2 separate regions of the Homo sapiens genome follow, and region 2 is linked to region 1. The links come from fine-mapping of genetic effects on gene expression. A gene starts in region 1. The other region holds a variant in brackets. All regions are shown on one strand. Distances are between the middles of the regions.

What was found. PIP is the estimated chance that this variant, and not a neighbour inherited with it, causes the effect.
Region 2: its variant is fine-mapped to the expression of ZNF875 in whole blood (INTERVAL, PIP above 0.99).

What each region holds. Positions count from the first base shown.
Region 1 is chr19:37,325,964-37,342,120 of GRCh38, forward strand. ZNF875 (zinc finger protein 875) reads left to right here and starts at 8,686. Exons shown (of 5, transcript NM_001353803.2): 1 at 8,686-8,819; 2 at 9,206-9,294. The coding sequence starts at 9,262. RefSeq lists enhancers at 7,693-8,635, 8,431-8,540, 8,636-9,577, 8,751-8,850.
Region 2 is chr19:37,523,637-37,539,793 of GRCh38, forward strand. ZNF793 (zinc finger protein 793) reads left to right here. Exons shown (of 8, transcript NM_001013659.3): 6 at 8,720-8,846; 7 at 9,672-9,767; 8 at 13,261-16,157. The coding sequence ends at 14,243. LOC124904708 reads right to left here. Exons shown (of 2, transcript XR_007067248.1): 2 at 9,215-10,492. Among named protein-coding and RNA genes, the nearest start is that of ZNF571-AS1, 17 kb to the right of the region's middle. RefSeq lists an enhancer at 6,338-7,160. The variant A/T (reference allele first, on the strand shown) is at 8,379.

The DNA of each region.
Region 1 (16,157 bases):
CTCCCAAAGTGCTGGGATTACACGCGTGAGCCACTGCACTTGGCCTGATTTTTTTTTTCTGAAGAGATGAGGTCTTGCTATGTTGCCCAGACCGGTCTCAAATTCCTGGCTCAAGCAGTCCTCCTGTCTTGGCCTTCCAAAGTGCTGGGATTACAGATGTGAGCCACCACACTGGCCCATTCTTTCTTTTATACTGAGTATTCAGAATTTTTTTAAAATGTGTTTTCCACTTACAGCATTTCTCAGGTTGGACTAGCCATCTTTCAAGTGCTCAGCAGCCACATGTGGCAAGTGCCTGCCTTATTGGACAGCACAGCTCTGGAGGGTGATTTTATGTACATCCCCACTGCTCTCTCTGCCTCCTTTATTCCCATCTACCCCACACCCCTGCAGTCTGTGACTATCGTGTCCCTCCTCTCTTCCTGTCTCTTGTAATCCTTTAATATGGAGAATTATTTCCAATTCCTTAACATCCTGCCTGATTTTTTTCTGTCTTACATTCAAGGGTCACAGTTTTCCTCTCACCCTCATTTCAGTCTTTTCCCATAACATGTGACGTGCCTTTTTGTCTTGGTTGGGTATTTATTTGCAATACAAGAATGATTGTTTTCTTTGATACATTAGTGACTCACATACTTTTCATGTTTTTTGAGTACCTCTTTCTTGAAAGAATTTCAAATTCTAAAGTTAAATTAGAAAGCTTTTTTTTTTTTTTTTTTTTTGAGTTGTAGTCTCGCTCTGTCGCCCAGACTGGAGTGCAGTGGCGTGATCTCATCTCACTACAAACTCTGCCTTCCAGATTCAAGTGATTCTCCTGCCTCAGCCTCCCGAGTACCCGGGATTACAGATGTGCACCACCATGCCTGGCTAATTTTTGTCTTTTTAGTAGAGCCAGAGTTTTGCCATTTTGGCTAGCCTGGTCTTGAACTCTTGACCTCAAGTGATCTGCCCGCCTCAGCCTCCCAAAGTGCTGGGATTACAAGGGTGGGCCACCATGCACAACCTAGACAGCTTATTTTATTTTATTATTATAATTTTTTTTTTTTCGAGATGAAGTCTTGCTCTGTCTCCCAGGCTGGAGTACAATGGCAGGTCTCGGATCCCTGCAACCTCTGCCTCCTGGGTCCAAGCAGTTCTCCCTGCCTCAGCCTCTCGAGTAGCTGGGATTACAGGTGCCCACCACCATGCCCAGCTAATTTTTGTATTTTTAGTAGAGACAGAGTTTCACCATGTTGGCCAGGCTGGTTTTGAACTCCTGACCTCAGGTGATCCGCCCACCTCGGCCTCCCAAAATGCTGGTATTACAGGCATGAGCCATTTTCCCTGGCCAGGAAACTTATTTCAAAAGGTGTGTATAGAGCCCCTTATGTTTCTACTTGATTTTTAAATGACAGGTCTATATGTTTTAGGATGTAATATCTCACTGTGTGTTGCTTTGCATCATTGAACATTTTTGGTAATTATTTTTATTTTCTATATATTTTAGAGATTTCATTAAACTAATACGGAATTTCATATTCAGGGGCAGGCATAGTGGCTCATACCTGTTTTCCCAGCACTTTGGGAGGCCGAGGCGGGCAGATCACCTGAGGTCAGGGGTTTGAGACCATCCTGGCCAACATGGCAAAACCCCGTCTCTACTAAAAATACAAAATTATTCGTGTAGTGGTGCAGGCCTGTAATCCCAGCTACTTGGGAGGCTGAGGCAGGAGAATCGCTTGAACCCGGAGGCAGAGGTTGCAGTGAGCCGTGATCTTGCCACTTCACTCCAGCCTGGCCCACAGAGCAAAACTCCTCAAAAAAAAAAAAAAAAAATCATACTCGCTCGTATCAAAAATGAAAATTTATTTTTACAAATTTCTATGTGAGTGATAGAATTATTTTAATGTCAGAAAGGTTCATAAGAAATGGGTGTAGTGATTGTGTTCTTTCCTGTGCTCGAATGGAAAATGATGAGGGAACACAATGTTAGAGTTGCAGTGAGAAGGGGCGGAAAGACCAGGTGCGGTGGCTCATGCCTGTAATCTCAGCACTTTGGGAGGCCAAGGCGGGCGGATCACCTGAGGTCAGGAGTTCAAGACCAGCCTGACCAACACGGAGAAACCCCATCTTTACTAAAAATACAAATTAGCTGGGTGTGGTGGTGCATGCGTGTAACCCCAGCTATTTGGGAGACTGAGACAGGAGAATCACTTGAACTGGGAGGTGGAGCCTGCAGTAAGCCAAGATCGCACCATTGCACTCCAGCCTGGTTAACAAAAGCAAAACTCTGTCTCAAAAAAAGAAAAAAAGAGAAAGGGTGGAAAAGAGGGATTCCAGAGTGCCAGGCACACAGATTTTCTGGAAGGTTTACATGAGGACTGCTGTGGTTTGAATGTGTTCCCCAAAGTTCATGTGTTGGAAACTCAACCCCTAATGCAACAGTGTTGATCAGTGGAACCTTTAAGAGGTGATTAGGTCATGAAGGCTCTGCCCTCATGAATGGATGAAGGTAGGGTGGGTTAGTTATCTTGGGAGGGGGTTCCTGATAAAAGGATGAGGTTGGCTTCCTCCCTTTCTGTCTTTCCCCTTCTCCCTCTCACATGTGGTCACTCTCTTGCCCTTTTACCTTCCAGCATAGGACAACACAGCGAGACCTTCACCAGATGCAGGCCCCTCACTTTCCCAGTGTTCAGAACCATAAACCAAGTGAACCCTTATAAATCACCCAGTCTGTGGTATTCTGTTATAGCAACACAAACAGACTAAGACAGGGACACTCAGTGAGCTCTTCTCTCTACTTGATGGAGCACTCCCTGCGTGGTGCCTTGTATTTGTAGACATGATGCTGTAAATGCTCTTTGAGTGTCTCGAAGGCTTTTATGTTTGAGGAGTTTACAGAGAAGCCCGTACAGGGTTCAGGTCCATTCTGTTGCTTCTTTGCTCCTTAGTTCCTCCCCTAATCTGATGTTAAATTAGATCATAGTGTGGTCCTTGGACCAATAGTATCAGTAGCACCTGAAAATCATGCTGGAAATACAGATTCACAGGCTGCTCCCCAGAATACTGAAGAAGAAACTCTAGGAGTGAGACCCAACAATCTGTGTTTAACAAGTCCCCAGGTGAGTCTGATGCACAAAGAAACGTGAGCTGCTGTATTAGATGGTGTTGAGTTCATGCCACCGAATCACTGACACACACATCTGCTCACTGCTTGCTCTTCGCACAGGCCCCTGGATCCTCCTGGAATCCCTGATCCCTGTTGCTCCCTTGCGGAGTTTTCTAGTCCCTCTTATTTGAAGCATGTCTTTCAGAGCCTCGCACCACCCAGCTTGGGTATCTGGTGAATTCTGTGGTCTGCATGTCCATGTTTTTGACATTCTGGGAAGGGTGGCCCAGGCTGTGATTTGCCATCTACTGCTGCAGGCTATGGATGGTATTCAGAAGGGAGGGGAGATGCTGTGTGCGTGTTCTGAAGGGTTTCCCACTAAATGGAGAGACTGACTCTCTCCATAAGTATTTGATTTTTACTTTATCTCCTCGTTGACTTCACAGTGTAAGTGCAGTTTGTCTCTACTGGGTGATGCATGCAGATAAATGTTTATGTGAACATAAGAAGTCTGCATGTGTGGGTGAACTCTCCACATCATGTCATTTATTGTCCATCATTACGTATCTGTGGTGTCTAGCACATTCCTCTACCTTATTTTCTGTCATTGTACCTACTTCTACCTGAACACGTATTAAATATCTTATTAAAAATACACAAATATTATGTTTCCTCAGTGGTTTTTTCCCCCTCACATTGGGCCCTCCTCTTCAGTGGACTACAGTGTGGTACCTGCAGGTCTCAGGCCTTCTGGGAGGTTCCAGCTTTTCCTGGATGCTCTCTCTCTCTGGCCAGCTCAGGCTGGAGCAGTGGGTGTTGGTGCCATCCTGTGGCTATAGGTGATAAACCAGGTTGTGTTTTGACCCCTAGTCTTGAATCCTGGAGTTCTCACATGCGTGGATTTAAATGCTGTGTCTTTCTAAGGGCAGATTGTGCCCATTTTCCTTCTCTGCCTCTCAAGGGACTGTTTGCTGTGTTTATTGACTTACCATTAAAAAAAATCATATACATTGATGAATTAGATTGTACTCCATAAATTATATATGTTTGAAAAATAAAGAATATTTTTTCAATTTTTTTCTGATTTTTACCTATCTTTTAAATTGTATATATTTATGGGGTACAAAATGATGTTATGATTTTTCCATACAGTGTGGAATGTTTAAGTCAAATTATCCTATCCATTACCTCAAATACTTGACTTTTTTTGGTGATGAGAATGGTGTTTATCACTTTCACTCATCAGCTCCTGATGTCTTCCATGCTAGGGACAGGAAAGGCTCAACACTTGACTTTCCCTCCTGTTTTCTTAGCCACTGTCAACCCTTGAATGTACCCTCCAGGGTTGCCTGTCACCTTTTACACCTAGCCTGATCCTTGTGCACCCACTTTCCTCTCAGGGACTGTCCTTAGGGAGTGACTTTATGCACAGACTTAATGTGCTCTTCCTGCCTCCTTCATCCCCATAAGCCCCCATCTCAGCCCCATCTGATTATTTCCTCCCTCTCTCATTTCCTGTTATTCTGTTGGTTTTCTAACCTGAAGGGTAACTGCTTACTCCTTAGTTTTCTGCCTTAATTTCTAAGTCATAGGCTACTTTCAGGCTAAAAGTTTTCCTCCAGCCATGGTTTTAGTCTCATTCTGTAAGTCTTGGTTTTTAGTTTTATTCATTTAAAATTAATCTTTAATAACTTTTTTGACTCATTGGTGACAGAGTAATTCCCTCTCTTCCCACCACACCACCCTCTGTCCCCAAGATTCTGGAAGTTTGTTCTTCCCCTTTTGTGATCATTGTTACTTAAAACTTTGAGTTTTTCAAATTAGAAGTTTCTTCTATAAATGTATATAGAGCTTGGCTGGGCGTGGTGGCTCACGCCTGTAATCCCAGCGTTTGGGAGGCTGAGGCGGGTGGATCACGAGGTCAGGAGATCGAGACCATCCTGGCTAACATGGTGAAACCCGATCTCTACTAAAAATACAAAAAAATTAGCCAGGCGAGGTGGCAGGCGCCTGTAGTCCCAGCTACTCGGGAGGCTGAGACAGGAGAATGGCGTGAACCTGGGAGGCGGAGCTTGCAGTGAGCCGAGATGGCACCACTGCACTCCAGCCTGGGCGACAGAGTGAGACTCTGTCTCAAAAAAAAAAAAAAAAAAAAGTGTATAGAGCTAATAACTCCTTGCTTTTTTTTTTTTTTTTTTTGAGAGTCTCGCTCTTGTTGCCAAGGCTGGAGTGCAATGGCACAATCTTGGCTCACTGCAACTTCTGCCTCCTGGGTTCAAGTGATTCTCCTGCCTCACCCTCCCAAGTAGCTGGATTACAGGCAGTGGCCACCACGCCCATGTGGGGAAAAGCAAGAGAGATCAGATTGTTACTGTGTCTGTGTAGAAAGAAGTAGACATAGGAGACTCCATTTTGTTATGTACTAAGAAAAATTCTTCTGCCTTGAGATTCTGTTAATCTATAACCTTACCCCCAACCCCGTGCTCTCTGAAACATGTGCTGTGTCAACTCAGAGTTAAATGGATTAAGGGCGGTGCAAGATGTGCTTTGTTAAACAGATGCTTGAAGGCAGCATGCTCCTTAAGAGTCATCACCACTCCCTAATCTCAAGTACCCAGGGACACAAAAACTGCAGAAGGCCGCAGGGACCTCTGCCTAGGAAAGCCAGGTATTGTCCAAGGTTTCTCCCCATGTGATAGTCTGAAAGATGGCCTCGTGGGAAGGGAAAGACCTGACCGTCCCCCAGCCCGACACCCCCAGCCCGACACCCGTAAAGGGTCTGTGCTGAGGAGGATTAGTAAAAGAGGAAGGAATGCCTCTTGCAGTTGAGACAAGAGGAAGGCATCTGTCTCCTGCCCGTCCCTGGGCAATGGAATGTCTCGGTATAAAACCCGATTGTATGCTCCATCTACTGAGATAGGGAAAAACCGCCTTAGGGCTGGAGGTGGGACCTGCGGGCAGCAATACTGCTTTGTAAAGCATTGAGATGTTTATGTGTATGCATATCTAAAAGCACAGCACTTAATCCTTTACATTGTCTATGATGCAAAGACCTTTGTTCACGTGTTTGTCTGCTGACCCTCTCCCCACAATTGTCTTGTGACCCTGACACATCCGCCTCTTCGAGAAACACCCACAGATGATCAATAAATACTAAGGGAACTCAGAGGCTGGCGGGATCCTCCATATGCTGAACGCTGGTTCCCCGGGTCCCCTTATTTCTTTCTCTATACTTTGTCTCTGTGTCTTTTTCTTTTCCAAATCTCTCGTCCCACCTTACGAGAAACACCCACAGGTGTGTAGGGGCAACCCACCCCTACACGCCCAGCTAATTTTTGTATTTTTAATAGAGATGGGGTTTCGCAATGTTGGCCAGGCTGGTCTCGAACTCCCGACCTCAGGTGATCTGCCCACCTTGGCCTCCCAAAGTGCTGGGATTACAGGCGTGAGCCACCATGCCTGGCCAACTTCTTGCTCTTTTTGCCACTACTTTTAAGCTGATATATTTGGAACTGAGGTAGCCTCATTCTACAGGTTTAGATCTGAAGTATTTTAACTATTGCTTCTTCCAGTGTATTTTCTGGTTTGCAGGCCAGTTTCTTCTTTAACTCATCAGTGACACAGTGGTTTGTATGGCTTTTAATTTCAAAGAATATTTTTTCAATTTGCTTTTTTGTTTTTTGCTGATTTTTATCTATGCTAATTTTAACTAGACATGTTCCCTTGATGGGCATGACTAGATTTTTTCTTCCCCACTGCGTTTATAATTTAGATGGATTTTCACATCTCAAGCCAGTTAAGAGTGTGGAAAATAGGACTCCTTAAAGCACAGATAATGACAAGTGGTTCAGATTTACAAGGGTAACTCAGGTGAGAGTGTATCATTGTACTTGGCACACAGCACTGAGTAACTATCACCTTTCATTTAAATGAATGCAGCTGTAAATGCTTTCCTAGATGTCTTGTTGATGTTTGTTAATTTCTGTAGAGTTTCATTCTGCCCCTTTCACTGTTTATCACTTGATCCTTATCACTTGAGAGTCCCCTTATTACTTGACCTGCTGTTACATTATGTTTGATTTATTACAAATACCCCATCAGCCTGGGTCTCTCTTTACTCCCTTTGTACACCTACATCTAAACATAGTGATTTGGATTATCTCAGGATCCCACATCCTCACTGTACCCCCACCCCCACCCCTACCATATCTTTCTTAAGTTTTCTAGTCCCTGCTTTTCATTTGTGCTTCTTAAATCCCAGCCCCATGCCTGACTGTGGTTCCCACTGAGTTCTGTGACAAGCATTCTACATTTATAGATATTAAATCTTTGGCCGGGTCATTTACCTGGGCTGGAATAGGGCTCTCGGCTGATCCTCCTTCCTAAACACCCTCTCAATGGGAGAGGCTGATACCCAACATGCAAACCTTGTTTTTTACTTCTCCAGGCAAAGGGATGTTGGAAGACATTCTGGAGGGGGTAGGGTGTGAAGATTTACAAATAATCTTTGAATATCTGCTTCATGATAGGTCTTGGAGGTGCCTTGTGGGTGTGGCTTTGGAGGGATGGTTACGAGGAAATTGTGGATATTAAGGAAGTCAGGAAAGGAAAAGATGACTCACTGACAATTCAACAATTGTCCTAAGGGACTTTCTGGCTGCTTGATGCCCTAGAAGCCAGGCCCTCACTTCTGTAAATGCTGGGGACTGTGGATACAGAATTTAAAGGGTCACCAAAAAAACTCAGTAATCAAGATAAACAATATTTTAATGTAATATCTTTAAAAATAAAATCAATGCAAAAAGAAAACACCCCTGTTGAACAAAACGGTCAGACTTATGCCTCCTTTCCAACACCGCCCCACCTCCACCCCACCCTCCGGAAGTTTCCTCCAAGCCGCACCTGTACCCCAGCCTCCAATAAAAACCTCGGGAATTTCCTGATCAAGCTTCGGATCCCCACCACCACCAGGGGATCTTTTGCTGTTCACCCCAAGTTCAGTCTGCATCCCCTAAAATCCTAGGGACACGCGACCAGTCTCCCCCATCTGCATTCCGGGAGTTTGCCCCAAACCAATCCTGCTCTCCGCGAAAATAGCCTTGGGGTTCCCTGTCCTGGTACACCCTCCTACTCTAGGGGACAAAGGGCCGGTGTCGCCTCCAAACTGGTGGTTCCCGCAGAGCATCGTCTCTCCCTGAGCCGCGTCTGTCCCGACCTGGCACCTGCTCAGGGAAGGGCGCATCAGGGCGGAGACTTGCGTAGTGAGCTCAGCTCACCCGCACCTTGAAGGTCAGCGCACACTGGCCACCCGCAGAGCACCGGGACCACATTTTGCAGAATCCTTCGGCAGTCCCGCGATGCCTTCGCGGTCAGCAGATCTCATTGGTTTACAGAGAAACTTGTCAACGTCACTTGGGCATCTTAAGAGTGGGTTCGTAAACTTGGTTGTGTGCGCTGTGCAGATGTCAGTCACCCTGTGTGGTGGGCAAAGCCGACTTCTCCGCCTCTGTAGCTCCGAAACTACAATCCCCAGAGGCCTCTGCGGTCACTTCCGCTCCCCTCCCTACCCTTCAGTGTGTAGCGTTGACGTCAGAAACACTTCCGGTCGGTGGCCCAGGCGCGTTAAGCTGGTTGGGACCCGGGAAGGCCTCCCTCTTAAGGTCTTTCCCACACCTCTGCACCTTGTTACCTGACTTTCGGCTTCAGGATCCGCAGCGTGCACCCGCGTTCCGTGAGTGCCCTATAGGCAGTCAGCATGCCCCTCTGCGTGTCCCTGTGTTACGGGGACGCCGGCTGGGAGCCGCAGAGCTATCTCAGAACTAGGGCGCTCTCCTTTGGGCACCTCCAGGCCATTTTCCTTTCATTCGAGCCCACAGGGTTAGAGATAAACCCTCACTCCGTTGCTTGGGGACAAGGGCTTCACTCCCTGTCCCGAGCTTGCGGCTGAGCTTGAGGGTGGCTGGGTCATCCTGGCCCCCCACTGGATGGGAATTGGCTGCTCTGGTGATTTCTGTGACATCCCAGACCCCAACTGTGGGGCTCTGGAGCGGACTGCGCTTCACTTCGTGGGGAGGGTGTTTCCACCTAGGCCACTCTTATTTCTCTTCACATCCCCAGATCTGTCTTCTGAGACTTTGCCCTTCTCCAGGAAGAGCACTCAGGAGACCAGGAAAATGGCCACAGGGCTCCTGAGAGCCAAAAAAGAGGTGAGAATTAACTGTAATTCTATCTTGGCTGTCAACAGAATGGGTCCCATTACCTTTTCTTGTCCTGGAGGCTGCCTTGTTGGTATTGGGCAAAGTCATTCCTAGCCCTAGTCATTCCTAGTCCATAGAACAAGGAGGATTTTGATATAGTCTTGTAGAGCGTCCGATTCTGTCGCTGTTCAGGGCGCCACTTGTAACCTGCACGGACCTGGTGGACTGAACAAAAGGAATAAAAGACAAGAAACAAAAAAGTATATTTGGAAGAAGGGGTCGGGGGCACTTTGTCTCTAGTGGACAAGGGCCCTGAGCTTTACACAACCCTCCCGTATTTATTGGTAAAACAGATAACAAGTTAGGGGGTGGTGATTGTCAGGTAATTGTCAGTTGGCCGTTTGGTTCGCAATTGCAAGACTGCATCCTTCCAACAATAGGCGCTAGATTTCCTGGTAGATCACTTCAAGGAGCCAGGCGCCAGGCAGTGATGGCTCTCAGCACATCTTTTGGTGGCAGTGTGCGTTTGCTCACATCCTGCATTCATGATAAACAGTTTACCGTTTAATCATATAACCTCCAGTGGAATGCTGAGTTGGTCACAATCCCTTTGGTCTTTTCGGCTCCAAACATAGTCTGACCTGAATTTTACCTTTGAGTTCATTCCTAGTCCTGGAAGAGTGCCTCGTTCTAACAGGAGTCTTCCCTCAGCATTCCTTTCTGCTCCATCCTTACCGCAGTCACTCATGAAGTAGTTAATTGTGAACAACACATATGGAGCAGTTTAAATAAAAGTAAAGAGACATACATGCGTAATTGTTCAGTGATGTGGATGAAGGGCAGGGACAGCACAGATGCCTGTGATTTCAAATGGTTAGGGAGGCCTCCTAGAAGTAGGGCTGTCTCAATTGCCCCTGACTGGTTTGTTAAGTTGGAGATTGGGGGGAAGGCATTCCAGTGGGAGGCGGCAAGGAAGCATAGATAGTTTCAGAGGCTGGACTCTCAGTGTGGAAGGATTATGGTGGCCAGTGGACTTGCTTAAGATTGAATTTTTTTTTTTTTTTTTTTTGAGACCGAGTCTCACTCTGTCATCCAGGCTGGAGTGCAGTGGCGCCATCTCGGCTCGCTGCAGACTCTGCCTCCCAGGTTCACACCATTCTTCTGCCTCAGCCTCCTGAGTAGCTGGGACTACAGGCGCTTGCCACCATGCCAGGCTAATTTTTTGTATTTTTAGTAGAGACGGGGTTTCACCGTGTCAGCCAGGATGGTCTCGATCTCCTGACCTCATGATCCACCCACCTCGGCCTCCCAAAGTGCTGGGATTACAAGTGAGATTACACCACACCCGGCTACCTATGCATATTTAAAAATCAACCTTGGCCAGGCGTGGTGGCTCAGGCCTGTAATCCCAGCACTGTGGGAGGCTGAGGCAGGCGAATCACGAGGTCAGGAGATGGAGACCATCCTGGCTGACACGGTGAAACCCTGTCTCTACTAAAAATACAAGAAATTAGCTGGGCATGGTGGCAAGCGCCTGTAGTCCCAGCTACTCGGGAGGCTGAGGCAGGAGAATCGCTTGAACCTGGGAAGCGGGGGTTGCAGTGAGCTGAGATCGCACCACTGCACTCCAGCCCGGGCAACAGAGTGAGACTCCATCTCAAAATAAATAAATAAATAAATATACATATGTTAAGATACAGACTATCTATTCACACATAGAACAAGGAGAATTTCGATATAGTCTGACCTGAATTTTACATTTGAGAGCACTTTCAGCTTCTGGCAATTGGGACATTTCCAAAATTCCAGATTCCCTGCTTCTCTGAAAATAAATCTGCCCTAAATCTGCACTGTTCTTTGGTGTCAGACAATTTGAGCTGAACAACGTCTTTATCATTTGGACGTGACCTTCAGAGTATCAGCTGCACTTTCTGCAGTGTCCTTTATACTGAGGTTGAAACCATTGACTACCTAACATTTCACCCCCCTCTCATTTTTATTACCTACCTGACCCCTGAAGGGTTTGCCTTTTCCACCTCTCGGTCAGGGTGGGGACAAATCAGAAAATGCTGAGTGCCAGGCTGAGCAGGGTAGACTTTGTCTTTGAGTAAGCTGAGTTTTGAAGGATGTTAAGAAGGGACTTGACATAAGGAAGTCAATGGTATGTGGGAAATAGTGATTGACTGTGTATAAGGACTTAAGGGGAAGCGTTCTTCTTTTTTTTGAAACGGATTCTCGGTCTGTCTTCCGGGCTGGTGCGATCTCAGCTCACTGCACCCTCTGCCTCCCAGGTTCAAACGATTCTCCTGTCCCAGCCTCCCGAGTAGCTGGGATTACAGGTGGCGCCACCAGGCCCAGCTAATCTTTTGTATCTTTAGTAGAGACGGGATTTCACCATGTTTGCCAGGCTGGTCTTGAACTCCTGACCTGGTGGTCCGCCTGCCTCGGCCTCCTAAAGTGCTGGGATTACAGGTGTGAGCCACAGCCCCCGGCCGAGGGGAAGCTTTTCTAAGCCCTGAGATTGGTGACGATGATGCCCCTGACTTAATTGAATGCAATTAACATTCATTAAGCACCAACACAGTTGCCAGGCTGTTTAACAGTCATTTTTGATATGGGTTAACTTGGTTATTTCAGATTTGCCTTGACTATCCTTATCAAGAAATCTGAGTGGAATTTAGACAGGAAAAGAGATTTCTTAATTCTGGACTCCAGTGGTGGGGATTATGCATTCCTGGATGTTATCAGAGCAACACTGAGAATTCTGTTTCTCATTTCTAAAATAGTTAATTCATTTGAGAGTGTTAATACCAGGAATACATAAGAAATCCAATTCAGGACATTTCCCAAGGTAACATTGAATATTTTTTGTGCGTACTTTCTCTTTTCTTTGAGGCGGAGTCATGCTCTGTCACCCAGGCTGCAGTGCAGTGGCACGATCTTGGCTTACTGCAGTCTCCGCCTCCTGGGTTCAAGCGATTCTCCTGCCTCAGCCTCCCGAGTAGCTGGGATTACAGGTGCATGCCACCACGCCCGGCTAATTTTTATGTTTTTAGTAGAGATGGGGTTTCGCCATGTTGGCCAGGCTGGTTTCAAACTCCTGACCTCAGGTGTTCCACCCACCTCTGCCTCCCAAAGTGCTGGGATTACAGGTGTGAGCCACTGCACCCAGCCTTTTTGTGTGTACTTTCTTCACCACTCCCAGTGTTACCAGGGAAGCATTCTTTCTGATTGGCTGGGAAAAGTCAGAAGTTTGTGGTAGCTGACTTTTCCTGTGCCACCTCCTTCATTCTCAGTAGGTCTACCCGGAACTGCCTCCTGTATATAAACAACTTGTTCTTCAATGTAGCTTTTTAACATAGTATTTACTCAGGAAAAATTAAAGGGCATGAGCATTTAAATAGTTGTTTAAGATGAAACCTCTGTGTCTCTCATGCCTAGCACACATGAAATGTTTGGTGCATGAAGGAATCACAACCTTAAGTAAACGATTTGAAGGAACTAAGTAACAAAGGAGTTTCTGTTGTTTGCTTTGGTTTGTTATTTTGGGCATGTGGTTAATCACATGTTTCAGGAGCGTTGGGTAGAATTTCCAGATACTCTTGATATGCATGGCATCTGAATTATACAAAATAATCAAAGCAAGACTATCTTAGGACATTAGGTATTACTGCCAAGGACCTTTGCCTGAGAGGATAAATTAAAATTTGTGTTAAATTTGTAACAATGAGATGAACTGGCAGGCACATTATGTTATTTTTTTTCTTAGCATTTTTCCTTTTCCTTGGTGCCATACAACAAACTTGAGTGTCTGCTATGTGCAGAACACTCAGTAGATTACAGTTAATGATGGGTAAAACACAGTCTGCACACTCAGGAGTCTTCCATTTTATTTTAGGATTCCTTTCTCATTTGGATTTAATTTAATTTTATATGCGCTCACACCCCTGCAAACATATTTTGACAGGCCCTAATGGTAAAATCATAATGGAGTAAAGTTACTGGCAGTGTATCTACCCAGCTCTATTTTTAAAGGTGTAGAAACAGCCAACACTTATCCCACTGAAAATAATTTCCATAGTAATCCATTGAATGGATGAACTCATCCATTGTTTCCCAATTTTTGGACTCCTGTTTCCAATGTTTAACTGTTGCAAATAATACTTCTATGATCAGCTTTGTACATGAAATTCTTATATAGGTTTTTATTCTCATACAAAATATGACAAGGTGAATAGACATGACTGTTTTGAAGCATTGGGCACCCACAGCAGTTGGAGATTTGAACCCTGCCAGTTTTTTTTTTTTTTTTTTTTGAGACAGAGTCTCGCTCTGTCACTCTGTCCCACTGCATCAGGCTGGGATGCAGTGGTGCAATCGATCTCGCCTCACTGCAACCTCTGCCTCCCAGGTTCGAGCAATTCTCTTGCCTCAGCCTCTTGAGTAGCTGGGATTACAGGTGCCCGCCACCACACCAGGCTAATTTTTGTATTTTTAGTAGAGACAGGGTTTCACCATATTGGCCAGGCTGGTCTCAAACTCCTGACCTCAAGTGACCCACCTGCCTTGGCCTCCCAAAGTGCTGGAATTACAGGCATGAGCACCGCGGCTGGCCCTGAACCCTGCCAGTTCTAAAGAATTTGAACTTCCAATTACTTCTTTCTTTTCTGAGACTCCCTTCTTCACCATGTGTTTCTTTATACTGTGCAATTTTTATTTTATTTTATTCATTTATTATTATTATTATTTTTGAGATGGAGTTTCATTCTTGTTGCCCAGGCTGGAGTGCAATGGCATGATCTCAGCTCACTGCAACCTCCGCCTCCCAGGTTCAAGTGATTCTCCTGCCTCAGCCTCCCAAGTAGCTGGAATTACAGGCATGTGCCACCGTGCCCAGTTCATTTTGTATTTTTAGTAGAGATGGGGTTTCACCATGTTGGTCAGATTGGTCTTGAACTCCTGACCTCTGGTGAACTACCCGCCTCGGCCTCCCAAAGTGCTGGGATTACAGGTGTGAGCCACCACGCCCAGCCCTACTGTACAACTTTTATTTGCTTTTATTTTAATTATTACACTGTGCAGATTTTGATTACCGGGGTAGACCTGCCAACTTAGGTCTCTTTCTTCTCTCACATGAAAGCTCACATAGTATCCTGATTTGTTTCCAAATGTTGACATGGTCCTTTGCCACCCACTACATGTTTCTGTAATCCTCGTTTTCCCCAACATTGCAGTAACATCACTTTTCAGAAACCTTTAGTGCCTCATTTCAGTGTCTTAGATATTTAGGACAGTCTTCATTTCAAATATTGTATCCTGTTGTCTGATGTCATGTTCTGATTATTCAGTCTGAAAGTGTGTTTATTGTTACCACAGGGGAGTCATCTTATGTGTACTTTTTTTTTTTTTTTTTTTTTTGAGACGGAGTCTGGCCCTGTCGCCCAGGCTGGAGTGCAGTGTCACGATCTCAGCTCACTGCAAGCTCCGCCTCCTGGGTTCACGCCATTCTCCTGCCTCAGCCTCCCGAGTAGCTGGGACTACAGGTGCCGACCACCACGCCCGGCTAATTTTTTGTATTGTTAGTAGAGACGGGGTGTCACCTTGTCAGCCAGGATGGTCTCGATCTCCTGACCTCATGATCTATCCACCTCGGCCTCCCAAAGTCCTGGGATTACAGGCGTGAGCCACCGCGTCTGGCCTTGTGTACTTTTAACTTAGATACATTTACTTTTTATCCACTCAGCTGAAAAAAGAGGAGAAAAATAAAAGTAGGTCAGGTCAATCTGTTTCCTTTCCCATTTAATGAATTCATGCCCAGGAGTGAGTGAGAAATGGGAGGACTGAATCTGCTGTTCTCCAAGACTAGCTTAGGAGTTTCTGACATCATGGGCATCCCAGCAAGCCAACGGTCACATTAGTCACCACGTATTTTTCATATCACGTGATCCCTCTATCAGTGTATCAGCCTTTGCTGTATAATGAACAATCCTAAACATCAATGGCTTAAAACAAAATCACTTATTAGCACATAATTTGGTAGGTTCATATTTTGGGCTGGCCGCAGGTAGGTTTTGCAGATTTCACCTGGTCTTGTCATTTTGCTGCAGTCGGCTGGCATTTTGACCAGGGCTGGAGGACTATCCATGTGTGACAGGAAGCTGGTTGGCTGGGGTGCCTAGTTTCTTCTTGGTTCTCTTCCATGTGGGCTTGGGCTTGGTCAAATGGTCTTGGGTTTCTCTATGCAGGAAGAGAGGACAGCCCCAATTAACAAGTAGTTTTAACGTTTTGGCTTTTGTCATGTTCACTGATGTCCTTTTGGCCAAAGGAAGTCACATGGCCAAGTCCAGAGTCGTCATAGAACGGGATAACATAAGGGAGTAGATACAGGGAGACATGATTTATTGGTCCCAATGATTCATACCCTTACCATGTGCAAGATTAACTCACCCCCCTCCCAAGATCCCCAAAAGTTTCATCTTGATTCAAAAGTCCAGTATCTTATGTGTAACAGTCTGGATGTAGCTAAAGCTTCTTCACTGGATCCTTTTTGAGTCAGATACCTGTATACTAAAAAGGCAAGTCATTTGTTTCCCTCCACCCCAAACATTCCCTACCTAACATACAGTGGTGAGAGAGAGATACTGCAGTAGATGCTCCCATTCAGAAAGGACAGGAATTAAGCATAGAGGAGGCCTCTCCATTTTGAACTGTTTCAGATCCTTTGGACTTCCTTGAAAGCTCTATGGGTTTCCCATGTACCAGATTTGGGACTGCTCTATTAAACAAAAGCTGAAATCACAGTCAGACAGGCCTCACATCTTTGGCAAGGTGTCGGTGCTATGGGACAATGCCCATAAGAATCTCAGAAGCCT
Region 2 (16,157 bases), 200 kb after region 1:
AGACAGTGAGGGAAGCTGGATTGGGCTGAGGGAATTGTTGAACAGAGGCCTTAGTGGATCTTATCCTCTGGAGCTGGGATGGCCTTCAGCATTGTTGTGAATGGAGGCAAGGAGGCTTTTATATTCTGAAATCAACTAATCATTGATTGTAGGCTGCCCCGAGGAGGGTAGATATCCTTGGATGGTGCAGTACCCTTTGGCCAAGGATAATTCTCAGAAAGGTTTTAAGCCGGCCGCTAGGGGTAGCTCATGCCTGTAATCCCGGCACTTTGGGAGGCCAAGGCAGTTGCATAACCTGAGGTCAGGAGTTTGAGACCAGCCTGGCCAACATGGTGAAAGCCTGCCTCTATTAAAAATACAAAAATTAGTTGGGCATGGTGGTGGGTGCCTGTAATCCCAGCTACTCGGGAGGCTGAGGCAGGAGAATTGCTTGAACCTGGGAGGTGGAGGTTGCAGTGAGCCAAGATGGCACCATTGCACTCCAGCCTGGGCAACAAGAGCAAAACTCCATCTCAAAATAATAATAATAATAATAATAATAATAATAATAATAATAATAATAAAGGGTTTTAAGCCTGCAAGAGCCTCCTTTCTATATGTAGATACAGTGGCAAGATACTTAACACATACTGCTGTAACCAACATGTTATCTTTATTTTTTGTAAAGATGGGGTCTTACTTAAAACCATACCATTTTTTTAAACCAGATATGTAATGCTTCATCGTATGCAAGGGAATATGACTGATTTGACCAGTCCCTCATTTGATGGACATTTGGGTAATTTTCAGACTTGATATTACAAGTAGTGATGCAAGGAACATTCTCTTTTGGATTACCAATGTACAAAGTGGAGAGTCCAAGAGTCAGTAACTGATCTTCCTGGTAGCCCAACAAAAAGGCAAATACAGTTAGCCCAAGATTTGTACTGTTTATAAGGAAGAAGCCTATTGTTATCTCCAGTGGAAAATTAGCATTTCAAGGCAGTTTTTGAAGGTGTTTTCCAAGACGCCTTCTTAGGACTGAAGTAGAAAAGCACAGCCTCTCACAGTGTGGTCCCGGGACCTGGGCGTCTCCTGGGAGCCTGTGGGAAATATGGAACGGCAGGCTCCGCCCCTGGCCTGCTTCATGGGGTGATTTGTAGGTGTAGCCTGGGAATGTGTGTTTAAAAGGCTTTGGATGATCTTTACGCACATAAAAGTATGAAAAACATTGATAGTGATAGTAGACAAAGTTCTTAATAACTAATAAATCCGAAATAGGTTTTTTATATTGTTTCCCCTTGGAATAGAGTGTTAGACCCAAGGCAGAACTCCCAGTTTTTCAGGTGACCAAAACTGCCAAGTGCTAGCTCCCCAATGATACGACAATGTTTTCTATCTGTGTCAAAGCTGTAGGAAGTCCTAACTCTTCTGTTGCTTGCGATCCACATATATAATGGAAGGAAATGCTGCATGTCAGTGAGAAGAAAGTGAAAATACAAATGATTTCTTTCTGTTTTCTCTCTTTTTTTTTTTTTTGAGTTGGAGTCTTGCTCTCTGTCGCCCAGGCTGGAGTGCAGTGGTGCAATCTTGGCTCACTGCCAACTCCTCCTTCCGGGTTCACGCCATTCTCCTGCCTCAGCCTCCTGAGTAGCTGGGACTACAGGCGCCTGCCACCATGCCCGGCTAATTTTTTGTAGTTTTAGTAGAGACAGGGTTTCACCGTGTTAGCCAGGATGGTCTCGATCTCCTGACCTTGTGATCCTCCCGCCTCGGCCTCCCAAAGTGCTGGGATTACAGGCGTGAGCCACCGTGCCTGGCCTTTTTTTTTTTTTTTTTGAGACGGAGTCTCGCTCTGTCACTCAGGCTGGAGTGCAGTGGCACGATCTCGGCTCACTGCAAGCTCTGACTCCCTGGTTCAAGCGATTCTCCTGCCTTAGCCTCCTAAGTAGCTGGGACTACAGGCGCCCACCATCAAACCCAGCTAACTTTTGTATTTTTAGTAGAGACAGGGTTTCGATGGTCTCGATCTCCTGACCTCGTGATCCACCTGCCTCGGCCTCCCAAAGTGCTGGGATTACAGGCGTGAGCCACCGTGCCTGGCCAATAGGAATGATTTCTGTTTAAGGGGTCAGAGGGCTGCTTCAAGTGTACAGAAGCCCTGAATTTGATCCAAGGCAGCTGTAGCCTTGATCTGGACTGAGGAACAGATGTACTGCCCAGCATTTAAATGACTGTCATTCTTCTTATATGTGTGTTCTAGTTTGGTAGCAAACAGTTACACATCTTATTCCTGGGAATGTCTCAGTGTGAGGTGTTCCCAGCCCCCAAGGGCCCTGTGTCCTGAGAAGACTTCTCCTTTCCCTGAGTTTCTCATTCCTGCCTCCTCCTCCATCCCTTCTCAGTTTCCCATCACAGGAGATGGTGCCATCCCATCGGGCAGGCCGGGACCCTGAGATTTACCCTTGACTTCCTCCCTACTTTTCCCCCTCCTTCTACCCAGTCACCATGCCGTGCTAATTTTTAAAAGTTCAGTGATTCTTTTTATTTTTTTGAAACAGGGTCTTACTCACTGGAGCCTTGAACTCCTGGGCTCAAGCGATCCTCCCATTTCAGCCTCCCGAGTAGCTGGGACTATAGGCGCATGCCACTATGCCCAGCTAATTTTTTTATTTTTTGTAAAGATGGGATCTTACTATATTACCCAGGCTGGTCTTGAGCTTCTGGGCTCAAGTGGTCCTCCTGCCTCGGCCTCCCAAAGTGCTGGGATTACAGGCATGAGCTACCACACCTGGCCACAACTTCAGTGATTGCTGCCTCTTCATTCCTGTGTTCTGTGGAAATGGCATGGCTTCCTGGGTGCAGAATTGTATCTTTTCCTGGGAAATATTGACCCAGAGCCTGTCACTGTGCCCTGTGATCAGCCCTGACTGCTGCTCTTACTACCCTGGTGTGTTGTTCTGGCATCAGGGAGGGTGTTTGCTTGGCACCCCCTGTGCGCTGTGCCCTCTATGTGAGTCTTAGTGTGTCATGTGCCAGCCTCCATGGCCCCTGCCCTGCTTTTGGTCCTGCCTTTAGGCCCATTTGCCTGGGCTACTACTGCTCAGGTGCTGCTGGAAGCCCAGCATTCCTCATGGAGGTCTGCAGCCTCCTGAGAATGGGGCGTGGGCCTGGGCTGCTCTCAGAGCCACTTCGGTGCTTCTTTCCTTCGGCCACTCCTGGAGGTGGTAGGCCAGTGGCCCCAGCACTGCAATAGAGCTACCTACCCTACTTAAAGCCCACTGCACAGGCACTGAGTCCCCATTTTTTGTCCTTTAGAATTGTTTTCCTTTCTTTTTTTCTTTTCTTTTGAGATGTTGTCTCGCTCTGTCGCCCAGGCTGGAGTGCAGTGGCACAATCTCGGCTCACTGCAACCTCTGCCTCCCAGGTTCAAGCAATTCTCCTGCCTCAGCCTCCTGAGTAGCTGGAATTATAGGCATGCACCATCACGCCCGGCTAAGTTTTTGTCTTTTTGGTAGAGATGGGGTTTTGCCCTGTTGGCCAGGGTGGTCTTGAACTCCTGACCTCAGGTGATCCACCCGCCTATGTGCTACCACCCTGGCTAATTTTTGTATTTTTAGTAGAGATGGGGTTTCACCATATCGGCCAGGCTGGTCTTGAACTCCTGACCTCAGGTGATCCACCCTCCTCAGCCTCCCAAAGTGCTGAGATTACAGCCATTAAGCCACCGCTCCTGGCCAGAATTGTTTTCCCTTTCTTACAGATTTCAAAATATTGATTTATATGATTTTTCTTCTTAAATAAAATAGGCAAATTTATATAATGGTATTATGTGCCAGGCACTGTTCAAAGGCTTTACACCTTTTAACTAATTTAAACCTCATAGTAATTAAGACACACATACTATTATTATTTCCATTGAACAGATGAGGAAACTATGGCACAGAGAGGCTAAATAGTTTTCCCAGGGTAGGCTGAGCTGATATTTGAACTCAGGCAGTCCAGCCCCAATCCACTGCTTTGCATCTCATGTTATGTGGTCACATATAGTTAGGGAGCAGTCCACAAGACCCTCACTTCTACACCAACTGCAAGTTTGAGGGTCTCCCTCAAAACACTTTTGGGTTTTCTAATTTACTAGAAGGACTCATAGAACTCACTGAAAGCTGTTATACTCATTGTTACAATTACAGCAAAAGCATACAGATTAAAATCAACCAAGGCCCTGTGCAGTGGCTCACGCCTGTAATCCCAGCACTTTGAGAGGCCAAGGCAGGCGGATCGCTTGAGGTCAGGAGTTTGAGACCAGCCTGGACAACATGGTGAAACCCTGTCTCTACTGAAAAAAAAAAAAAATACAAAAATTAGCTGGGCGTGGTGGTGTGTGCCTGTAGTCCTAGCTACTCAGGAGGCTGAGGCAGGAGAATCGCTTGAGCCCAGGAGACGGAGGTTGCAGTGAGCCGAGACTGCGCCACTGCACTCCAGCCTGGGCAACACAGCAAGACTCCATCTCAAAATAAATTAATTAATTAATTAAGTAAAATCAACAAAGAGAAGAGGCTCATGAAGCAGAGTTTAGGAGAGTTCCACACATAGAACTTCTGTCCTCTCCTATGGAAGTCCCAAACAGTGCTAAATCCTCCCAGCAGTAATGTGTGCCAATACAGACGGAGCCTTGCCAACCAGGAAAGTGCACCTAGGCCCTGGTGTCCACTTTTTATTGGTGGTTGATCATGTAGAAAGGCTTGACTGTTCCCACCACTGACCTCAGTTTCCAGCCCTTCCAAGAGGTTGAGCTGATGCCTGTGACCCAAAGCCCTCATTATAAACCACATCATTAGACTATCTAGTGTGGCCCAAGACCACTAGGTAAACAAGGACACTCTTAGGACATTCCAAGAGTATAGAGATTACTTTCCAGGAGCTGAGGGCAAAGGCCACACCTCTCTTTTGGCAAGGTCAAATTCTTTACCACACAGTCACTTAAAGACAGGATCACCAGGACCTTCCTAGGCTGGTACCCATGGGTCTCCCTCAGTGACTGTCCTGCTCCTTCACAACTTATGCTGGCATCTCCAGGGCTATCAGCTCTTTAGAGAACTTTTGTTCTCTGTGCCCATAACCCGAGGCCTGCCAGGCGGTCAAGACTTCTTCTTTTCAGACTATTCCTCCTTTGGATCTCCTGCTGAACTCATCTTCTGCTGGCTTCTTAAATATTAGTGTCCCTTGGAGCTCTGGCCTGGGCACCCTGCTCTCCCCGTCTTGCAGAGGAATCTCACTTTTGTGCTGATGCTCAGCATTTTAGCTCCATTCCTGATCTTGCTCCTGACACAAAACCCACATGTCCACGTGGTCCCCAGGCAGGTCCAGCACAACAGCCTCCTCTTTGTTCCTCATGGTTTCCTCATCTCCAGGTGTGGCGCCATCATCACCCGGTTGCCTTCAAGATACCTGGGTGTTGCCCTGCCCCTACCCTCTTTCCCTCCCACAACCAGTTAAGGTGCAGGTTCTGCTCTTCTTTTTGTTTTGTTTTGTTGTTTTAATTTTTAAAAAATGTTTGTGGGTACTAGTAGGTGTGTGTATTTATGGGCATATGTTTTGGTACAGGCATCATGCAATGTGAAATTATCACACCATGCAGAATGGGGTCTGCTCTTCTTTACAGCGTTCCATCTTTCTCTAACGGTTACTGTCCTGCTTGTGAACATCACCTTTCACCCAGGTTACTATAGGGTCTTTCCTCTCACGTCCCTCCAGGTCACCCACCACACTTCTCTTTCCATCCATTGACTTTAAAACTGCCTGTGAGTTTACATTGAAAGTGCATCTCTTGTAGGCAGCATTTTTTTTTTTAATTCAGTCTGATGATCTCTGCCTTTTTGGAATGTTTAGTCTGAGACAGAGTCTCATTCTATCACCCAGGGTAGAGTACAGTGGCACTATCTGGGCTCACTGAAACCTCTGCCTCCCAGTTTCAAGCGATTCTCCTGCCTCAGCCTCCTGCGTAGCTGGGATTACAGGCACGCACAACCACACCTGGCTAATTTTTGTATTTTTAGTAGAGGTAGGATTTTGCCATGTTAGCCAGGCTGGTCTCGAACTCCTGACCTTAAGTGATCTGCCTGCCTCAGCCTCCTGAAGTGCTGGGATTACAGTGGTGAGCCACCATGCCTGGCCTGGAGTGTTCAGTTTATGAAGGGGTGGGTTGCCCCTCCACACCTGTGGGTGTTTTTCGTTAGGTGGAACGAGAGACTTAGGAAAGAAAAATACACAAAGTATAGAGAAAGAAATAATGGGGCCCAGGGTACCAGTGTTCAGCATACGGAGGATCCCGCCAGCCTCTGAGTTCCCTTAGTATTTATTGATCATTCTTGGGTGTTTCTCGGTGAGGGGGATGTGGCAGGGTCATAGGATAATAGTGGAGAGAAGGTCAGCAGATAAACACGTGAACAAAGGTCTCTGCATCATAGACAAGGTAAATAATTAAGTGCTGTGCTTTAGATATGCATACACATAAACATCTCAATGCCTTACAGAGCAGTATTGTTGCCCGCATGTCCCACCTCCAGCCCTAAGGCGGTTTCCCCCTATCTCAGTAGATGGAATATACAATCGGGTTTTATACCGAGACATTCCATTGCCCAGGGACGGGCAGGAGACAGATGCCTTCCTCTTGTCTCAACTGCAAAGAGGCATTCCTTCCTCTTATACTAATCCTCCTCAGCACAGACCCTTTATGGGTGTCGGGCTGGGGGATGGTCAGGTCTTTCCCTTCCCACGAGGCCGTATTTCAGACTATCACATGGGGAGAAACCTTGGACAATACCTGGCTTTCCTAGGCAGAGGTCCCTGCGGCCTTCTGTAGTGTGTTGTGTCTCTGGGTACTTGAGATTAGGGAGTGGTGATGACTCTTAAGGAGCATGCTGCCTTCAAGCATCTGTTTAACAAAGCACATCCTGCACAGCCCTTAATCCATTTAACCCTGAGTTGACCCAGCACATGTTTCAGAGAGCACGGGGTTGGGGGTGGGGTTATAGATTAACAGCATCTCAAGGCAGAAGAATTTTTCTTAGTACAGAACGAAATGGAGTCTCCTATGTCTACTTCTTTCTACGCAGACACAGTAACAATCTGATCTCTCTTTTCCCCACAATTTATATTAAATTACATTACATATAATCTTTATTAAATTACATTATTGGTATGGTTGGATTTGTATCTGTCATTTTAGTGTCTGTTTTCTGTTTATCCCGTCTACTCTTTTGTTCCTCTATTTCTTCTTTCCTCTCTTTTGTTGTGCTAGTGTGGATGAATGGAACATTTTTCAAAATTCTGTTTATTTAGATCAGGCACACCTCACATTATGATTTTAGTGGTTACTTCAGGGATACAATATATATCTTACTTTTCACAGTTTATTTAGAGTTATCATTATACCACTTCACATAGAATGCAAGAAGCTCACCTCATGCCTTCTAGAATATACTTTCTGCATACACTTCTTCTTGGATGGAGTTTCCATTGTCCTAAAGTCCATCATTTCTTTTTTTTGTTTGTTTTTTTTTGTTTGAGTCAGAGTCTCACCCTGTCCTCCAGGCTGGAGTGCAGTGGCACAATCTCAGCTCACTGCAACCTCTGCCTCCTGGGTTCTAGAGATTCTCCTGCCTCAGCCACCTGAGTAGCTAGGACTACAGGCGCCCGCCACCACGCCCAGCTAATTTTTCTATTTTTAGTAGAGACGGGGTTTCACCATGTTGGCCAGGCTGGTCTCGAATACCTGAGCTCAGGTGATCCACCCACCTCGGCCTCCCAAAGTGCTGGGATTACAGGGGTGAGCCACTGTGCCCGGCCCTAAAGTCCATCATTTCATTGCTGGCCGACCTCTGCATACTTTTCTCTTGTTACTAAGTAACTTGCCACCCCTAAAATCACCGTTTTGCCCCCCGGCCTTTGTTCCCACTGCTCCCCTGCATAGAATGCAGTTTTCCATCTTCCTGCGGAGGAGAGTCAGCTTTCCATATCCCTGGGCTCTGAAGCCTAACCAGAACCTGAAAAATTTAACAGACCATTCGCTTCTCTGTATGCCATAGCCTAGATGTCCTGCCATCACAGCTCTTGTGACATTTTTACCCTGATGGCTTTACATGTTGCTCTCTCTGTGCCAGACAGTGAGCTCCTTGAGGTCAGGACCCATCTATGACTGTGACCCCAGCAACACACAGTGGGTCTTCAATGTTTGTTGACTCAAAGTATGGATGGCAATGGTAGATAGCTTCCAATGTGATTTTCTTTTTCCCCACCATATATAACACAAAGCCAAGAATATAAAAGGCCTTCCAGATAGATAATAAGCTCTAACTTATAAACATTATAAAAATCAGCACCATCTCTTGCACAAA[A/T]TTTTTTTTTTTTTTTTTTGAGATGGACTCCTGCTCTAGCCCAGGCTGGAGTGTAGTGGTGCGATCTCGGCTCACTGCAACCTCCGTCTCTTAGATTCAAGTGATTCTCCCACCTCAGCCTCCCAAGTAGCTGAGATTACAAGTGTGCACCACCATGCCTGGTGAATTTTTGTATTTTTAGTATAGACGGGGTTTCACCATGTTTGCCAGGCTGATCTTGAACTCCTGATCCTCCCACCTTGGCCTCCCAAAGTGCTGGGATTATAGGCATGAGCCACCATGCCTGGCCCTGCACAAACATTTTTTTTCGACATGACTCAATGTCATTTTTGTTTCAACAGATACCTGTGTCATTCAAAGATGTGGTTGTGGGCTTCACCCAAGAGGAGTGGCACCGGCTGAGTCCTGCTCAGAGGGCCCTGTACCGGGATGTGATGCTGGAAACCTATAGCAACCTCGTCTCAGTGGGTAAGAACATCCTCACCATACAATGCAGATTATGTTCGAATGACCACCTTTCCTTTCTCAGTTGCTAAAAGCAACTGGAGTACTTTGGGAGGCCAAGGCAGGTGGATCACCTGAGGTCAGGAGTTTGAAACCTGCCTGGCCAGCATGGTGAAACCCTGAAACCCCATCTCTACTAAAAATACAAATATTATCCAGGTGTGGTGGCGGGCGCCTGTAATCCCAGCTACTCAGGAGGCTAAGGCAGGAGAATTGCTTGAACCCGGGAGGCAGAGGTTTCAGTGAGCCGATATTGCACCATTGCACTCTAGCCTGGGCAACAAGAGCGAAACTGTCTCAAAAAATAAAAAATAAAAAAAAAGCAACGGAAGTACTCTAGAACTTCTGAAATATTTATTTAATAATTATCTAGCACTTTCTATGTGCCAGAAATTGTTTTAGCCACTTTAAAAATATTAACTCATTTCATTCTCATAAAAGCCTTATGAGGTAGTTACTATTAGTACCACTTTTTTACACATTTGGAAATTGAGGTACAGAGAGGTGAAGTAACTTGCCCAGAGTCACCCAGCTAGTAGATAGCAGAGTCAGGATTTGAACCTCAGCATTCTGGCAGCACAGAATGCATTCTTACCTTGTGCTGCTGCCTCAGTGGGTGTGGCTTGAGTTTCCATGGTCCTGGATTACTAATCCCATTTGGTTCTGGACAAGGTGTGTGTTTAGTCCCCTCCCAAGTATAACATCTATTGTGCAGCCTTTAAAGCTGCCTGAGAGGCCCTGAAGACCAAGGAGCTCAGCCCAAGACCTGCATCAATTTCCCCGGAACAGGTTATGAAGGCACCAAACCAGATGTGATCCTCAGACTGGAGCAGGAAGAAGCACCATGGATTGGTGAGGCAGCATGCCCGGGCTGCCACTGTTGGGGTAAGTGTGATAAATCTAGCAAAAGGGGTACTGAAGGAGGCTGGCACCTTTGGAATTTTGTTCAGCATTCTTCTCTTAAAAGCCTTGAAAGTCCTCCGAGAGCTTCAGCCACGTTAATGACTCTTCAACCTCCATGCAACCCCACCGCCCATATCTGAGTGTTTTTCTCGGCTCTACTTGATTGCACCTCTGCCCTTATGTGCTTGGTCCATCTCTCTTTCTCCAGAATCTTTCCCATGCAGGTATTCTTACAAATAAAAGCTTCTATGATTCTCCTGTTCCTGCTTCCTATTCTCTGTTGTGACAAACTTTCCAGATAAAATGCTTCAGAGCTACCTGCTTTCCCTAATTTCTGCACTCAAATTTAAATCACTCCCATAGACAGATGACTGTGGGATCAGAGAAGAGGAAGCAGTGAATTCCATGTTGGGGTGGGGAGGTGTGAAGGAAATGGCTGAGCTGGGCCCATCTTAACCACTGCTGATTAACCCTCAGACTCACTGCCCCTCTCCCTTCAGCTCTGTAAGACATTCCAGCAATATCCATTGTACCCTGAGGGCTGATGGATGGCCCACTCTTAGGGATGCCTCTGAACTTCTGCTTCTGGCGCTCTCTGGAGTGTGTTCCTCCATTAAACTGTGCTCTTCAGCTGTCCTGAGACTGTGGTATCCCGGTTATCAGTTGCCCTCCTCTTCTTTTCTTCTCCTCTTCTGAAAATTTCGTAACTGCAAATTCCACAAGAATGTATCTAGTCAGCCTCCCGTTTTTCCAGCTACTCTGTTACTATCTATTTCCCTGGCTCAAACCCAGCATTTTCCTTCCAAGGAACAATTGCATTTTCTGTTTTCCATAACTTGGTTCTCTTTCCAGTGGTGTAATCCTCTCAAAGAACTCACCCATTCTGAGAGTACATGATTCTCACAACCAGCCCTTTTGCCATGTTGGGCCCTTTTTTCCCCCTTGCACTGCCCACCCCCGCATTTAACCAGTCTGTGGATTACACTACAGGTGTGCACTTACCCTGTTCTTTGTGTGTCAAAAACTAAAATCATCTTTATTTGTCCTTGCTACCCCTGCCACACACACACTCACACTCACACACACACACACACACGCACACACACACACCACTTCATCTTGCTTATTATTCCAGGGCTTTGCTACCGTGTGGTCATTTTGAATCTTCTGCCTTTACCACTCACTCTAACTGTTCCATTCATATGTGTGGTTTTGTTGATTTTTTTTCTTCTGAGAAATGGCTTTAAATCTTCCTCTCTGCTTTTTTTTTTTCTTTTTGAGACAGTGTCTCACTCTGTCACCCAGGCTGGAGTGCAGTGGCATGATCATGGCTCACTGCAGCCTTGACCTCCTGGGCTCAAGCGATCCTCCCACCTCTTAACCTCCCGAGTAACTGGGATTATATTCACGTGCTACCACACCTGGCTAATTTTCATTTTTTTTGTAGAGAAGGGGTTTTGCAGTGCCGCTCAGGCTGGTCTCAAACTCCTGGGCTCAAGCAGTCCACCTGCTTTGGCTTCCCAAAGTGCTGGATTTACTGGCATGAGCCACCATGCCCAGTCCTTCTCCACTTTTTTTTGTTGTTATTGTTCAGATGAAGTCTTGTTCTGTCACCCAGGCTGGAATGCAGTGGTGCCATCTCAGCTCACTGCAACCTCCGCCTCCTGGGTTTAAGCAATTCTCTGCCTCAGCCTCCGGAGTAGCTGGGATTACAGGCACGTGCCACCACCCCCAGCTAATTTTTGTATTTTTAGTAGAGATGGGGTTTCACCATCTTGGCCAGGCTGGTCTTGATCTCCTGACCTCGTGATCCACCCGCCTTAGCCTCCCAAAGTGCTGGGATTACTGGCGTGAGCCACTGCACCCAGCCCCACTTTTAATTTTCCACTGATATCTCCTAAAATGAGACCCAGATTATCTCATGACTGAATGTCTTTAAGTGAGGGGTTATTAATTATTTTTGTGCCATGGACTTCTTAGGCATTCTTTTGAAGGCTATAGACCTCACTTCTATGTATAAAAATATAATAACGTTCATAAGATTATAAAATAAATGACTAAAGTACAGTAATTATCAAAATAAGCTAGAAAATAGTTATCAAAAAAAAATTTTTTTTTTTTTAGATGGAGTTTCACTCTGTCGCCCAGGCCGGAGTGCAATGGCATGATCTCAGCTCACTGCAGCCTCCTCCTCCTGGGTTCAAGCGATTCTCCTGCCTCAGCCTCCCGAGTAGCTGGGACTACAGGTGTGTGCCACCACGCCCAGCTTATTTTCTATTTTTAGTAGAGACTGGGTTTCATCATGTTGGTCAGGCTAGTCTTGAACTCCTGACGTCAGATGATCCACCTGCCTCGGCCTCCCAAAATGCTGGGATTACAGGCGTGAGCCACCGCGCCCAGCTTCAAAATATTTTCAAAATGTGCAATATAATAGTAGATGTACTTTTTCATTTATACGTTAATGAGGCCTAGCATCAGGTCTAATAACTGTCATGATCTCAAAGAAGAGATGATTATAAACATAATAATGTGACATGAAAATAACAATATTCACAAACTAGTATCAAGTCACAGGAACCACTAATACCACTGTGTTTTGTTGCTTATATTCATATTCAAAGGAAATGTTCAATTGTAGTTGGAACTCAGTGAAAACAAAAATGTAATTTCTTTTCTATCAAAGTTCACAAGCCCCCTGTTTTCTGCCAAGTTAAGAACTCTTGCTTAAGTCCTAGTTAGCTTTGTTGATTTTATTTTTTAATCTGTTTCACCTTAGAGTGCTTTACCGTTTATATTGTAACTAACTAGCCCAACATGATATTCCCTTGGATGACTGCTATACCAGTGCTTGTTAAGCTCCAAGGTGTTTGGAATCACCGGGGCATCTTGTTGAAATGCAGAGTCTGATTAAGTAGGTCTGGGGCGGTGCCTTAGATTCTGCACATCTAACAAGCTCCAAGTAAGGCCAAAATTGCCACTTGAAGACCCACATGCTGGATAGCAAGGTACTGTATAACATTTAACCTTCTTTCTTCTGTAACAGGGATCAGCAAACTGTGGCCTACCGATTGGCCACCTGCTTTGTGAATAAAGTTTTATTAGAACACAACCACATTCTTACGTTTACATGTTGTCTATATTTTCATGGTATGGCGGGAGAGTTGAGTCATTGTGACGGAGACCATATGGCCCACAAAGCCTTTACTTTCTGACTCCTTAAGAATAAGTTTGCCAACCTCTGCTCTGTAATATCCTATTTTCTTTGAAATTATTGGTCTCTATACTCTATGATATATTGAATTCCATTTGTGCCAGTGTTCAGAATCCTCTTTACTCATAGAACACTCTTCCCTGCGTTTGTGCTTTGGGTTATGGTTCATGTTCTCTATTTGTGTGCTGTGCACTCTTTAAATTTTGAGAGCATTTCTTAAGTAGTATGAAGTTTCATAAGGATGATTCACTGTACTTTCTCCAGAAGACATCTGGCGAGTTAATATCCAGAGGAAAAGACGGCAAGACATGCTTTTGAGGCCAGGCGCAGCCATAAGCAAGAAAACATTGCCCAAGGAGAAAAGCTGTGAATATAATAAGTTTGGGAAAATATCACTTCTGAGCACTGATCTTTTTTCTTCAATCCAGAGCCCTAGTAACTGGAACCCTTGTGGAAAGAATTTGAACCATAATTTAGACTTGATTGGTTTTAAGAGAAACTGTGCAAAAAAGCAAGATGAGTGTTATGCTTATGGGAAATTGCTTCAGCGTATAAATCATGGTAGACGACCTAATGGAGAAAAGCCCCGGGGTTGCAGTCACTGTGAGAAAGCTTTCACCCAGAACCCGGCACTTATGTATAAACCAGCAGTAAGTGATTCTCTCTTGTACAAACGGAAGAGGGTTCCACCTACAGAAAAACCCCACGTCTGTAGTGAGTGTGGGAAAGCCTTCTGCTACAAGTCTGAATTCATTAGGCATCAGAGAAGTCACACTGGGGAGAAGCCTTATGGCTGCACTGACTGTGGGAAAGCCTTTTCACATAAGTCAACCCTCATCAAACACCAGAGAATTCACACTGGGGTAAGACCCTTTGAATGTTTTTTTTGTGGGAAAGCCTTTACCCAGAAGTCACACCGCACAGAACATCAGAGAACACACACAGGAGAGAGACCCTTTGTCTGCAGTGAATGCGGGAAATCGTTTGGTGAGAAGTCATACCTCAATGTACATCGAAAAATGCACACAGGAGAAAGACCGTATCGTTGCAGAGAATGTGGAAAATCCTTCAGCCAGAAGTCATGCCTCAATAAACATTGGAGAACTCACACAGGAGAGAAGCCCTATGGGTGCAATGAATGTGGGAAAGCTTTCTACCAGAAGCCAAACCTCAGCAGACATCAGAAAATTCATGCTCGGAAGAATGCCTACAGGAATGAAAACTTAATAATTGTGGGAAATACTTGAGCAAAATATCTGGTTTCATGGTATGTAGGGAATTTTTTTTTTTTTTTTTTGAGTTGGAATCTCACTTTGTCACCCAGGCTGGAGTGCAGTGGCGCGATCTCGGCTTACTGCAAGCTCTGCCTCCCGGGTTCACGCCATTCTCCTGCCTCAGCCTCCCGAGTAGCTGGGACTACAGGTGCCCACCACCATGCCCGGCTAATTTTTTTTTTGTATTTTTAGTAGAGACGGGGTTTCACCGTGTTAGCCAGGATGGTCTCGATCTCCTGACCTTGTGATCTGCCCGCCTTGTCCTCCCAAAGTGCTGGGATTACAGGCGTGAGCCACCGCGCCTGGCCGGTATGTAGGGAATTTATCCTTAGGAGAAATCTTATCATTTTAATGAATTTGAACAGTGTGTTTTTATTTTATTTATTTATTTATTTTGAGTTGTATTCTCTGTTTCCCAGGCTGGAGTGCAATGGCACTATCTCGGCTCACTGTAACCTCAGCCTCCCAGGTTCAAGCAGTTCTCCTGCCTCAGCCTCCCAAGTAGCTGGGATTACAGGCACCTGCCACCACGCCTGGCTAATTTTTGTATTTTTAGTAGAGATGGGGTTTCACCATGTTGGTCAGGCTGGTCTCTTTGGCTAGGCTGGTCTCGAACTCCTGACCTCGTGATACCCCCCAACCCCCCGCCCTTGGCCTCCCAAAGTGTTGGGATTACAGGCATGAGCCAACGCGCCCAACCGACAGTGTTGTATCATAATGGAAATCATGATCTAATTGTGATACAAACTTTTCTAGAAAATACTTTCTCAAACATAAGCATGGACACCCTGGCATGTAAACGTTTAAAAATGTATTAAATGGAATAACAGCAGAATACAAAATATCTGTGAAGAGACTTAAAGGCATACTCTGGTATATTCCACAGTGAGCCATACAATCAGCATTATTTGTATTTTGGAGTTGTAAATGTGAAATTAACATAAAATGTGAATATCAGACACATGTCACACAACATATAGAATGCCATTCAGAAAACTTTTCCACTTTAAATATCATCATTGTCTTTTGATGTCTTAACAATACAAAAAAATAACAACAACATGGCCCACTATTGTTAAAAGAACTTTATTATACCAGCTACATTTTTCCACCTTTTTGTAATACATGTAAATGGCTATAGAGGTTGTTACTGTCCTCTGCAGAAATAATAAAGCAGTGTTTTTAAATGTATTTGGATAATTTGGCCAAAAATTTTACTAAAATGTAGTTATTTATATTAAAAATGCAAGCTAAGGAATAGTTTAAGAACCTGATACTGGGTAAATGAAACACTGTAAACTATTTGACAAAATGTAGTGTCACCCTGGTGTACAGTACACTGTTCATATTTTCTTAGTCTTGCTTAAAATATCTTGTAGCAAATTAGTAGCATTGCTACACTATTCTAGATACACTATTCTATATACAGGTTGTATAACTCAGAAATGTTTCATGCGTAGACCACTGAAGGAGAATTTCTTTTCTCTCTATCCCTCTGCAAATTAATTCAAGAATATTCATTTTTTTCATATAAATTTCCTTGCAAGTGTCCTAGACACTAAATCCCAAGGTTTTAATTATTTCAATGTTTGGAAAGAAGTCTGCTTCCCTGAGTTGCTATGTCATCCATATTAGAAAATAAATGGCCATGTGGAATCTACATTTTTCAAGATTTCCCTCCATGTAAGACTGCCTGATCCAGAATGAGAAAGGAGACATAACCACAGATATCAATATGATTTTTTAAGTGATAAAAAGATACCTCATACAACTCTAATCAACATATTTTTTAAAAAGAGGAGGTGGATGCTTTTCTAATAAACTTAAGTTATGAAAACTGCAATAAGAAGTAGAAAACTTGGTAGGATAGTTAACATTGAAAAACTC